2 separate regions of the Homo sapiens genome follow, and region 2 is linked to region 1. The links come from fine-mapping of genetic effects on gene expression. A gene starts in region 1. The other region holds a variant in brackets. All regions are shown on one strand. Distances are from middle to middle. Region 1 holds the start of ELOF1 (elongation factor 1). Region 2 overlaps ZNF653 (zinc finger protein 653).

Region 1 (5,370 bases):
GGCAATCATGAACAAAATGAAAGATATATACATCCTGTGACTCAATGTCTTTGTTTTTTTTTTTTTTTTGAGATGGAGTTTCACTCTTGTTGCCCAGGCTGGAGTGCAGTGGCGCGATCTCGGCTCACTGCAACCTCTGCCTCCCGGGGTTCAAGTGATTCTCCTGCCTCAGCCTCCTGAGTAGCTGGGATTACAGGTGCCTGCCACCATGCCCAGCTAATTTTTGTATTTTTAGTAGAGACAAGGTTTTACCATGTTGGTCAGGCTAGTCTTGAACTCCTGACCTCAGGTTATCCACCCGTCTTGGCCTCCCAAAGTGCTGGGATGGGCCAGGCGCCGTGGCTCACGCCTGTAATCCCAGCACTTTGGGAGGCCAAGGCAGGCAGATCACGAGGTCAGGAGTTCAAGACCAGCCTGGCCAACATGGTGAAACCCCATCTTTACTAAAAATACAAAAATTAGCCAGGCATGTTGGCGCACACCTGTAATCCTAGGTACTCAGGAGGCTGAGGCAGGAGAATTGCTTGAATCCAGGAGGTGGAGGTTATAGTGAGCCGAGATCACGCCACTGCACTCCAGCCTGGGCCACAGAGCAAGACTCTGTCTCAAAAAAAAAAAAAAAAAAGCAAAAACAAAAAAGTGCTGGGATTACAGGTGTGAGCCACCATACCCGGCCATCATTTATTGTTTTTTATTTTATTTTATTTTATTTTTAGAGACAGGATTTCACTATGTTGCCCATGCTAGCCTCAAACTCCTGGGCTCAAGCAGTCCTCCCACCTCGGCCTCCCAAAGTGCTGGGGTTACTGGGGTGAGACACTGTACTCACAAATGTCATTTTTTGAAAACTATGCTTCACTAAAGATCCAGTCTTAAGGATACTGATTCAGGGACATTTACTGCATCATCACAGTGGCAAAACTCAGGAAAGTCCAGGAATTGTCCATCAGTAGGATAACCGTTGATTATACTATGGCAGAGTTGCACTATGAATCATGTAGCTACTAAAAACAAAAGTTAGGTATACGTGTATAGATGGTTAAGTGGAAATAGCAAGTTGCACGGTAACTGTATAGTATGATTCCATCCTGTGTGTATTCTAGTTTGCTCCAGCACTGAAAAAGGGTCTCACAAGAGGGCAGTTCTACTGGTTACACTTGACGGTTACCAGGGTAACACTGCCCCCTAGGGGATATCCTAGAGATCCCTCTACAGACAGCCCCTGACTTGATTATGATAGGTTTATCGGGATGTAACCCCATCGTAAATCAAAGAGCATCTGTATTCGAAATACATTTCATTACAAATTATCTTCCTGAACACTCTAATGCAACAGCTCTTATCAAGGTCCGCAGGGACCAGACCCTTGCCAAACTCAACTGTCAATTCTCTTTCCTCATCTTCTTCAACTCAGGGACACGTGACACAGCTAACCCCTCTCTCTCTCCATCTTGAAATATCTTTTTCAGGCCAGGTGTGGTGGCTCATGCCTGTAATCCCAACAATTTGAGAGGCCGAGGTGGATGGATCACTTGAGGTCAGGAGTTCGAGACCAGCCTGACCAACATGGTGAAACCCCATCTCTACTAAAAATACAAAAATTAGCCAGGCATGGTAGTGCGCACCTGTAATCACAGCTACTTAAGAGGCTGAGGCAGGAGGATCGCTTGAACCCGGGAGGCTAAGGTTGCAGTGAGCCCATATGGCGTCACTGCACTCCAGCCTGGGCGACGGAGCGAAACCCTGTCTCAGAAAAAAACAAAACCAAAAATAAAAACCAATAAAAGTCCTTGGCCGGGCGCGGTGGCTCACGCCTGTAATCCCAGCACTTTGGGAGACCGAGGCGGGTGGATCGCGCCTGTAATCCCAGCACTTTGGGAGGCCGAGGCGGGTGGATCACGAGGTCAGGAGTTCAAGACCAGCCTGGCCAAGATGGTGAGACCCCATCCCTACTCAAAAAAAAAAAAAAAAAAAAAACTACAAAAATTAGCCGGGCGCGGTGACCGGCGCCTGTAATCCCAGCTACTCGGGAGGCTGAGGTAGGAGAATCACTTGAACCTGGGAGGCGGAGGTTGCAGTGGGCCGAAATCGAGCCACTGCACTCCAGCCTGGGCGACAAAGTGAGACTCCGTCTCAAAAAAATAAAATAAAATAAAACAAAAATAAAAAATAAAAATCCTTAACACGGCCCACGAGGCTCCATGGAATCTGGCCCCAGCCTGTCCACTCAACCTCATCTACTACAATCTGGGCACTCAAAATGTGGTCTGCGGATCAGCAGCATGGAAGTCACCTGGGAGCGAGTTAGAACAGCAGCCTCTCAGGCCTCCCTCTTCATCTGCTGGATCAGAACTTGAACTTTTTAGTTTGAGTAGAGCGTCTTCCATGCTTACAAGCTTCCCCTTCACCCTGATTCAGCCATAAGGTTATTTCATATTCCTCACTTGCCGCTCCTGGAAACTGACCAGAAGTACTGGCATCGCGCGTAGGTACAGGCAAATACGCACCGGCTCTTGCGCAGGCGCACTGCGTCTCCGTCGGAGCGCTGCTATTTGAGTACGCGTGCGCTCAGAGGAGCGGCGAAGGAGGCAGGGCCTATTTGCTGGGCTGTCCGGGATGGGGGTGGCCGGGACCTGAAAGTAGGAGAGGGGTTTCCGCTTCCGGCAGGAGTCGGAAGTCACTATCTCCCGGGTGAACGGAGCTTTCGCAGCTGGAGAAGGTGAGTGCTGGTGCGGCTCGTGCGAGTGGGCGTTGGGGGTGGGCAGGACTGGAAGTTCCTCTACTCCGTGCGTTTACGGGGTCCTGGAGGAGGCTCCTGGGACCTCGAGCTTGGGGGAAAGCCGGTCGGGGAGACTGACTCCCCCCGACCCCATCCTTCCAAGCGCGACTACCGGGACGCCTGGCTCCTCCCGGCGGCCGTCGGGAGGCGATGCCGAAGCTTTAGTGAGTCTGGAGGAACAGCCAACCCCCCACCTCTTGGGTACCAGCAGATTCGGGGGATGACTCCTCTGCCATCCCCTTTTGGCGCTCTTGGACTTAACGTTGTCACAGGACAGGCTGAGGCCTCTGCATTCCTTGTGCAAGCCAGACCCCATTCATGGGATGGGGAGACTGTAGTCCCTGGGCAAAATGAGCTTCTGGGGCTCATCCGTAGATTTTGTTTGGACTTTTTTTTTTTTTTTTGAGAGTGAGTCTTGCTGTGTCGCCGAGGCTGGAGTGCAGTGGCGCGATCATAGCTCATTGCAGCCTCGACCTCCTGGGCGCAAGCTTCCCACTTCAGCTTGCCGAGTAGCTGGGACTACAGACTCAAGGCTAATTTTTGTAATTTTGTAGAGATGAAGGGTCTCACTCTGTTTCCCAGGCTGGTCTGGAACTCCTGGCTTCAAGCGATCTTCCCACCTGGGCCTCCCAAAGTGATGAGATTACGGGCGTGACGTCCCAAAGTGATAGAGTTACAAGCAAACTGATTGAGTGATTTATTCAGTAATGGTTATTGCTGGGCACGGTGGCTCATGCTTGTAACGCCAGCACTTTGGGAGGCCGAGGCGGGAGTATCTCTTGAGCCCAGGAGTTCCAGACCAGGCTGGGCAACATGGTGGGTCCCTGTCTCTACAAAAAATACAAAAATTAGCTGGGCGTGGTGCCGCGGCTAATTTATATTTCAGAGGTAGAGGGGCAGGGGGAGGATCGCATAAGGAATGTGTGAGGGAAAAAGACATTGAGGATGAATCCAAGGTTTCTGATTTGATTATCCGGAAAGATGGAATTGCTGTTAGCTGAGATGAGGAAGACTGGAAGAGCAGGTTGCAATGTCAGGGGCTTGGTTTTGGACATGATATGTTTAATCTTAGGTGGAAGTTAGACATCAGGTGGAGGTGTGGCTGAGGCAGATAGATCAGAGTCTGCAGTTCAGACTCAAGGCTGGAGAAGCAGGTGGCCTCAGTGTAGAGTAGGCATGAAGCCCTAAGACTGGGTGAAATCTTCATGTGGTGAGTATAGCCAGAAAGGAGAGGATCCAACAATTAAACTCATGGGCTTTTTGCTCTGTTGCCCAGGCTGGAGTGCCTCGGCTCACTGCAACCTCCGCCTCCCAGGTTCAAGTGATTCTCCTGCCTCAGCCTCCCGAGTAGCTGGGATTACAGGCGTGCACCACCATGCCTGGCTAATTTTTGTATTTTTAGTAGAGATGGGGTTTCACCATGTTGGTCAGGCTGGTCTCGAACTCCTGACCTCGTGATCTGCCCACCTCGGCCTCCCAAAGTGCTGGGATTACAGGCGTGAACCACTGCACTCAGCCTTTTTTTTTTTTTTTTTTAGATGAAGTTTTGCTCTGTTGCCCAGGCTGGAGTGCGGTGGCACAATCTCAGCTCACTGAAACCTCCGACTCCCAGGTTCAAGCGATTCTCCTGCCTCAGCCTCTCTATTAGCTGGGATTACAGGCATGTGCCACCACGCCCAGCTAATTTTTGTATTTTTAGTAGAAATGGGGTTTCACCATGTTGGCCAGGCTGGTCTCCAACTCCTAACCTCAAGTGATCTGCCCACCTTGGCCTCCCAAAGTGCTGGGATTATAAACGTGAGCCACAGCGCCTGGCCCAAACTCACGTGCTCTCTTCATTGGAGCAAGTTGGCAGAGAGGCAGGAGCATAGGAGACTAGCAGGAGCCACCAGTGAGGCAGAGGACAGGGAGCACATGGCATCCTGAGAGCCACATGTGCTCTCAGGGGAGGAAGGACCTCTGGAATGGGAGGACTGCCATTGGGATTTGCAGTATGGAGCCACCAGTAACCTAAGTTTGGAGGCAAGGGGTGCAGAGAGATGGGTGGGAATGCAGATGGCTGTACACTAAAACAGCCTGCAGAGAAAAGGATCATAGCTGGAAGAGGATGAAGAGTTTTTTTTTCCCCCTTTTTAAATGAGGAGAGAGGTAATAACAAGTGTGTGAGAGTGATCCAGTGGAGCTGGAAAATTTGATGTTGCTCAAAGAAAAGGGGATGGGAGCCAGGGCAGAATGAACAAATTGTTTTTGCAGGAACTTACTTCCATAGTAAAGGAGGCATGCCGAAGCTGGGCATGGTGGTGCACACCTGTTGTCCCAGCTACTGAGCAGGCTGAGGCCAGAGGATTGAGGCTTTAGCAAGCTGTGATCATGCCACTGCACTCCAGCCTGGGCAACAGAGCAAGACCTCATCTCTTAGATAAATAAAGAGGGTGGGTGAATGGCTGAATGAGTTGGTCCTAGGAGCTGTCTTTGGATTGCTTCTATTTACTCAGTGAACTGGAAGCATCACAGTTAAGAGTTGGGGGTGTTGGCTGGGCGTGGTGGCTCACGCCTGTAATCCCAGCACTTTGGGAGGCCGAGACAGGCGG
Region 2 (5,370 bases), 70 kb after region 1:
GTGAGCCAAGATCGTGCCACTGCACTCCAGCCTGGGCGACAGAGCGAGACTCCATCTCAAAAAAAAAAAGAGGATTCAAGCCGAGGGAATGGCAGGTGCAAAGGCCTTGAGGCAGGAACCTATCTAGTGTCTCCAAGGACATTAGGAGAGGAGGCGAGGACAGGAGGTGATGGAACACCTCCTGAAACAGACGCACTCCAGCTCTCGTGACCTGGCACAGTGGTTTGTTTCCCACATACAAAGCCTGGTGCTTCCATCCTGCAGACTGCCTTTCATCCCTGGACCCAGGTTCTTTCCTTCCTATGGCTCCAGCCTCCTTGTGGGTCCTGGCTTACTGGTGGGGAGAAAAGTGGAGACTCAACCTTGGGAGCACCTGTCCACTTGCATTCCATTGGCTGGGACTCAGCCACATGGCCACACCTACCTGCAAGAGATGCTGGGAAATGTAGTCGGTGCTGGTGCCAGGAAGAGAGGGATTTAGTGAGTAGCTGGCCTGCTTCTTTCACAGGAGGTAAAGAGTAGGTTCTTAGGAGCCGGGGACCCAAAAGAAGGGACTGCACTGGCCCTGGCAGGGGGCCGGTGGGGCCGCAACTAGCATCTGCAGGGGAAGTGGGAGAAGCGTTCAGGCTGCGGGTGGATGTATTTTGGATGCAGCACCAACAGGTTTTGCTGACAGATTGGAAGTGGGTGTGAGAGAGAGAGAAGTCAACAAGAGCCCCAGGACTTTGGCCTGAGCCACTGGAGAGACTGAGCTGCCTTCCGCTGAGTCAGGGACACCCGTGAGCAGTGCAGGCTTTGTAGAAGGGAAGATACAGAGCCCAGTGTTGCAGATCTGAGTTTGAGATGCCTGTGAGACACTCTTAGGGGGCCAATGAGATGGAAGAATCTGGAGCTCGACATGGAGGTGTAGGCAGAAGCTGCAGATGGAATCACCAGGCCATGGATGGTTGTAGTAATAAGAATACATACTTGGCCAGTCGCGGTGGCTCACACCTGTAATCCCAGCACTTTGGGAGGCCAAGGCGGGCAGATCACCTGAGGTCAGGAGTTCCAGACCAGCCTGACCAACATGATGAAAACCCATCTCTACTAAAAATACAAAAAAAAAAATTAGCCTGACATGGTGGCGTGTGCCTGTAGTCCCAGCTACTCAGGAGGCTGAGGCAGGAGAATTTTTTAAACCTGGGAGGCGGAGGTTGCAGTGAGCCGAGATTGTGCCACTTCACTACAGCTTACACAACAGAGCAAGGCTCTGTCTCAAAAAAACAAACAACAACAACAACAGAACAACAAAAACCCTCTTGAACAGTCCCAGATTGGTGAACAGTTCCAGATTGAGATGCTGGGACGGTGGTACCCCCGGAGAGGGCATGGAAGCCCATACCATACCCCCGTATCTTGCCCTGTGCATCTCTTCCCTTTGGCTGTCGCTGAGTTGAATCCTTTGTAATAAAGCTGTAATTGTAGGTAGAGCCATTTTCTGAGTTCTGTGAGTTGTTCTAACAAATTATCAAACCTGAGGATGGGGTCATGGAAACCCCCCATTTAGAGCCCATTGGTCAGACATACAGGGTAGCCCAGGACTTGCAGCTGACATCTGAAGTCCGGCGGTCTTGTGGGACTGAGCCTTTAACTTGGAGGATTTGACGCCCACTCCGGGAAGATAATGTCAGATTGGATTGAATTATTGGACATTCAGTTGGCATCGAGAATCGGAGGGTGGCCTTTAACCCCATTAGCCTGGGCAAGCCTGGGGGTAAGGTGAGCGCTGAGGAGAGGCCCCAGGCCAAGCCTTCCAGGCCTGCAAGAACCAAATAAACTTGGAAGGAGCCACCAGGAAGGGCCCAGGATACCACAGCGTGGGTCTGGGGGCTAAGAGAGGAGAGTGTCCCCTGGAGTAGGGGTGGTCAGCTGGGTCAGTCATCTTGGAACAGTTAGGGACAGTGGGGATTGAGAAGTGACTGCTGTTTTAAGCAGTGAGAGGGTCACAGTGTCTAGCCCCTGAAGAGCCCTCAACAAATACCAACTGCTGGCCGGGCATGGTGGCTCCCGCCTGTAATCCCAGCACTTTGGGAGGCTGAGGTGGGAGGATCACTGGAGCCCAGGAGTTCAAGGCCACAGCCTGGGTAGCATAACAAGACCTGATCTCTACTTGGGAAAATCAGGGCCACACGAGGTGCCTCATGTCTGTAATTCCAGCACTTTGGGAGGCCCGGGCGGGCAGATCACCTGAGGTCAGAAGTTCGAGATCAGCCTGGCCAAAATGGGGAATCCCGTCTCTACTAAAAATACAAAAATTAGCCAGGTGTGGTTGCATGCACCTGTAATCCCATTTACTCAGGAGGCTGAGGCACAAGAGTTGCTTGAACCTGGGAGGTAGAGGTTGCAGTGAGCCCGGATCGCACCACTGCACTCCAGCCTGGGTGACAGAGGGAGACTCCATCTCAAAACAAAAACAAAATCGGGCCAGATGTGGTGGCTCATGACTATAATTCTAGC[A/G]CTTTGGGGAGCCGAGGTGGATGGATCACCCAAGGTCAGGAGTTTGAGGCTAGCCTGGCCAACATGGCAAAACCTCATCTCTACTAAAAACACACAAATTAGCCAGGTGTGGTGGTGCACGCCTGTAATCCCAGCTACTCAGGAGGCTGAGGCAGGAGAATCGCTTGAACCCAGGAGGCAGAGGTTACAGTGAGCCAAGATTGCACCATTGCACTCCAGCCTGGGTGACAGAACGAAACTCTGTCTCAAAAAAAAAAAAGAAAAACTCAGGCCGGATGCGGTGGCTCATGCCTGTAATCCCAGCACTTTCGGAGGCCGAGGTGGGCGGATCATAAGGTCAGGAGATCGAGACCATCCTGGCTAACACAGTGAAACTCCATCTCTACTAAAAATACAAAAATTAGCTGGGCGTGGTGGCGGTTGCCTGTAGTCCCAGCTACTCGGGAGGCTGAGGCAGGAGAATGGTGTGAACCTGGGAAGCGGAGCTTGCAGTGAGCCAATATTGCGCCACTGCACTCCAGCCTGTGTGACAGAGCGAGACTCCATCTCAAAAAAAAAAAGAAAAGAAAAGAAAAATTCAGCCAGGCACGGTGGCTCATGACTGTCATTCTAACACTTTGGGAGGCTGAGGCGGGCAGATGACTTGAGGTCAGGAGTTTGAGACCAGCCTGGCCAACATGATGAAACCCCGTCTCTACTAAAAATACAAAAATTAGCCGGGTGTGGGCCAGGCGCGGTGGCTCACACCTGTAATCCCAGCACTTTGGGAGGCAGAGGTGGGTGGATCACGAGGTCAGGAGATCGAGACCATCCTGGTGAACCCCTATCTCTATTAAAAATACAAAACATTAGCCGGGCATGGCGGCACATGCCTGTAGTCCCAGCTACTCGGGAGGCTGAGGTGGGAGAATGGCATGAACCTGGGAGGCAGAGCTTGTAGTGAGCAGAGATCGCGCCACTGCACTCCAGCCTGGGTGACAGAGTGAGACTCCATCTCAGGAAAAAAAAAAAAAGCCAGGTGTGGTGGCGCACACCTGTAGTCCCAGCTACTCGGGAGCCTGAGGCAGGAGAATCACTGGAACCGGGGATGCCAAGGTTGCAGTGAGCTGAGATCGCACCACTGCACTCCAGCCTGGGTGACAGAGTGAGACTCTGTCTCAAAAAAATAAATAAATAAATAAATAAAATAAAATAAAAACTAAATAAACAAATACCAGTGGCTGCAGCTATCATAACCACTCCCTTTCTTCTGTCCCCACAGTGGGCAATGGGCTGGTGGCTGGCAGCTCTGACTCATCCAGCTCTGGCTCTGCCTCTGACTCTGAGGAGTCTCCTGAGGGCCAGCCGGTCAAGGCTGCGGCAGCGGCAGCGGCAGCGACGCCCACCAGCCCGGTGGGCAGCAGCGGGCTCATCACTCAGGAGGGCGTGCACATTCCCTTTGACGTCCACCACGTGGAAAGCCTGGCCGAGCAGGGTACCCCGCTGTGCTCCAACCCAGCAGGCAATGGGCCTGAAGCCCTGGAGACAGTGGTGTGCGTGCCGGTGCCTGTGCAAGTGGGTGCGGGCCCCAGCGCCCTCTTTGAGAACGTGCCCCAGGAGGCCCTGGGTGAGGTGGTGGCCAGCTGCCCCATGCCAGGCATGGTGCCCGGCTCACAGGTGATCATCATTGCGGGCCCTGGTTACGACGCTCTCACGGCCGAGGGCATTCACCTCAACATGGCAGCAGGCAGCGGTGTCCCCGGCAGTGGACTGGGCGAGGAGGTGCCCTGTGCCATGATGGAGGGTGTGGCAGCCTACACCCAGACAGAGCCCGAGGGTAGCCAGCCTAGCACCATGGACGCCACCGCAGTAGCAGGCATCGAGACCAAGAAAGGTCTGGGGGACCTGTCGTGGCCTCTGGCCAGGGGTGGTTGGGCCTGGGAGGGGCCGGGCGAGGAATGGCCCTCGAAGTGGGCACCTCGGCAGCCTTCGTCCCCTGCGGACACCACCCTGTGTCCACCCTGTAGAGAAGGAGGACCTGTGCTTGCTAAAGAAGGAGGAGAAGGAGGAGCCAGTAGCCCCGGAGCTGGCAACAACGGTGCCTGAGAGCGCAGAGCCTGAGGCAGAGGCGGACGGGGAGGAGCTGGACGGCAGCGACATGTCAGCCATCATCTATGAAATCCCCAAGGAGCCTGAGAAGTGGGTGCCGGGGCGGGCAAGGGTGAGGGCGAGGGCTAGAAGCGGCCCGCAGGCCCCCAGCCTGCCTGGTGCGGGAGCCCCGATGTCATGGCCCCTTCCCCTCCAGGAGGCGGCGGAGCAAGCGGTCGCGGGTGATGGATGCTGACGGCCTGCTCGAGATGTTCCACTGCCCATACGAGGGCTGCAGCCAAGTCTACGTGGCCCTCAGCAGCTTCCAGGTGAGGCCGCCACCCGGAGCAGCCTGGGCCAGGCCCACAAGGCCCAGGCCATGGCACCACCAGGATGTCCTACCTCTAGTTTGCCCCTTGAAATTTGACGAGGTGTCCCTGAAGGCAAAGACAGGGACTTGTCACACCCCAGGACCTGGCATGGGAGGATGCAACAACAGGCCTTTGTGCCATGCCATGCATTGATTGAGCATGTATTAAGCACTTAGTGCAAGCCAGGCCTGCAAGCTGGAGCCAGGGTTGTTCTAGTAAGTTAAAGAGTGAAGGAACAAAGGAATGAATCAATTGGGGCTGCCTGTTCCAGGCCCACAGAGGCTGATAGCCCTCAAATCCAGTCCCAGTCCTGCCACTGGCCACCTGTGAGACCTTGGCCAAACCACAGAGCCTTGAACCTCAGTTTCCCCATCGATTAATTGGGCTAACAGCTGGGCCCTTCACAGAGTTGACAGATACCCCAGTCCAGAGC

The links. PIP is the estimated chance that this variant, and not a neighbour inherited with it, causes the effect.
Region 2: its variant is the best candidate, but not a certain one, in a credible set for the expression of ELOF1 in whole blood (TOPMed, PIP 0.81).

The regions. Positions count from the first base shown.
Region 1 is chr19:11,556,540-11,561,909 of GRCh38, reverse strand. ELOF1 (elongation factor 1) reads left to right here and starts at 2,680. Exons shown (of 4, transcript NM_032377.4): 1 at 2,680-2,719. RefSeq lists an enhancer at 1,062-1,356.
Region 2 is chr19:11,486,294-11,491,663 of GRCh38, reverse strand. It overlaps ZNF653 (zinc finger protein 653), which reads left to right. Exons shown (of 9, transcript NM_138783.4): 4 at 3,761-4,372; 5 at 4,506-4,677; 6 at 4,784-4,895. Among named protein-coding and RNA genes, the nearest start is that of MIR7974, 6.6 kb to the left of the region's middle. The variant A/G (reference allele first, on the strand shown) is at 2,500.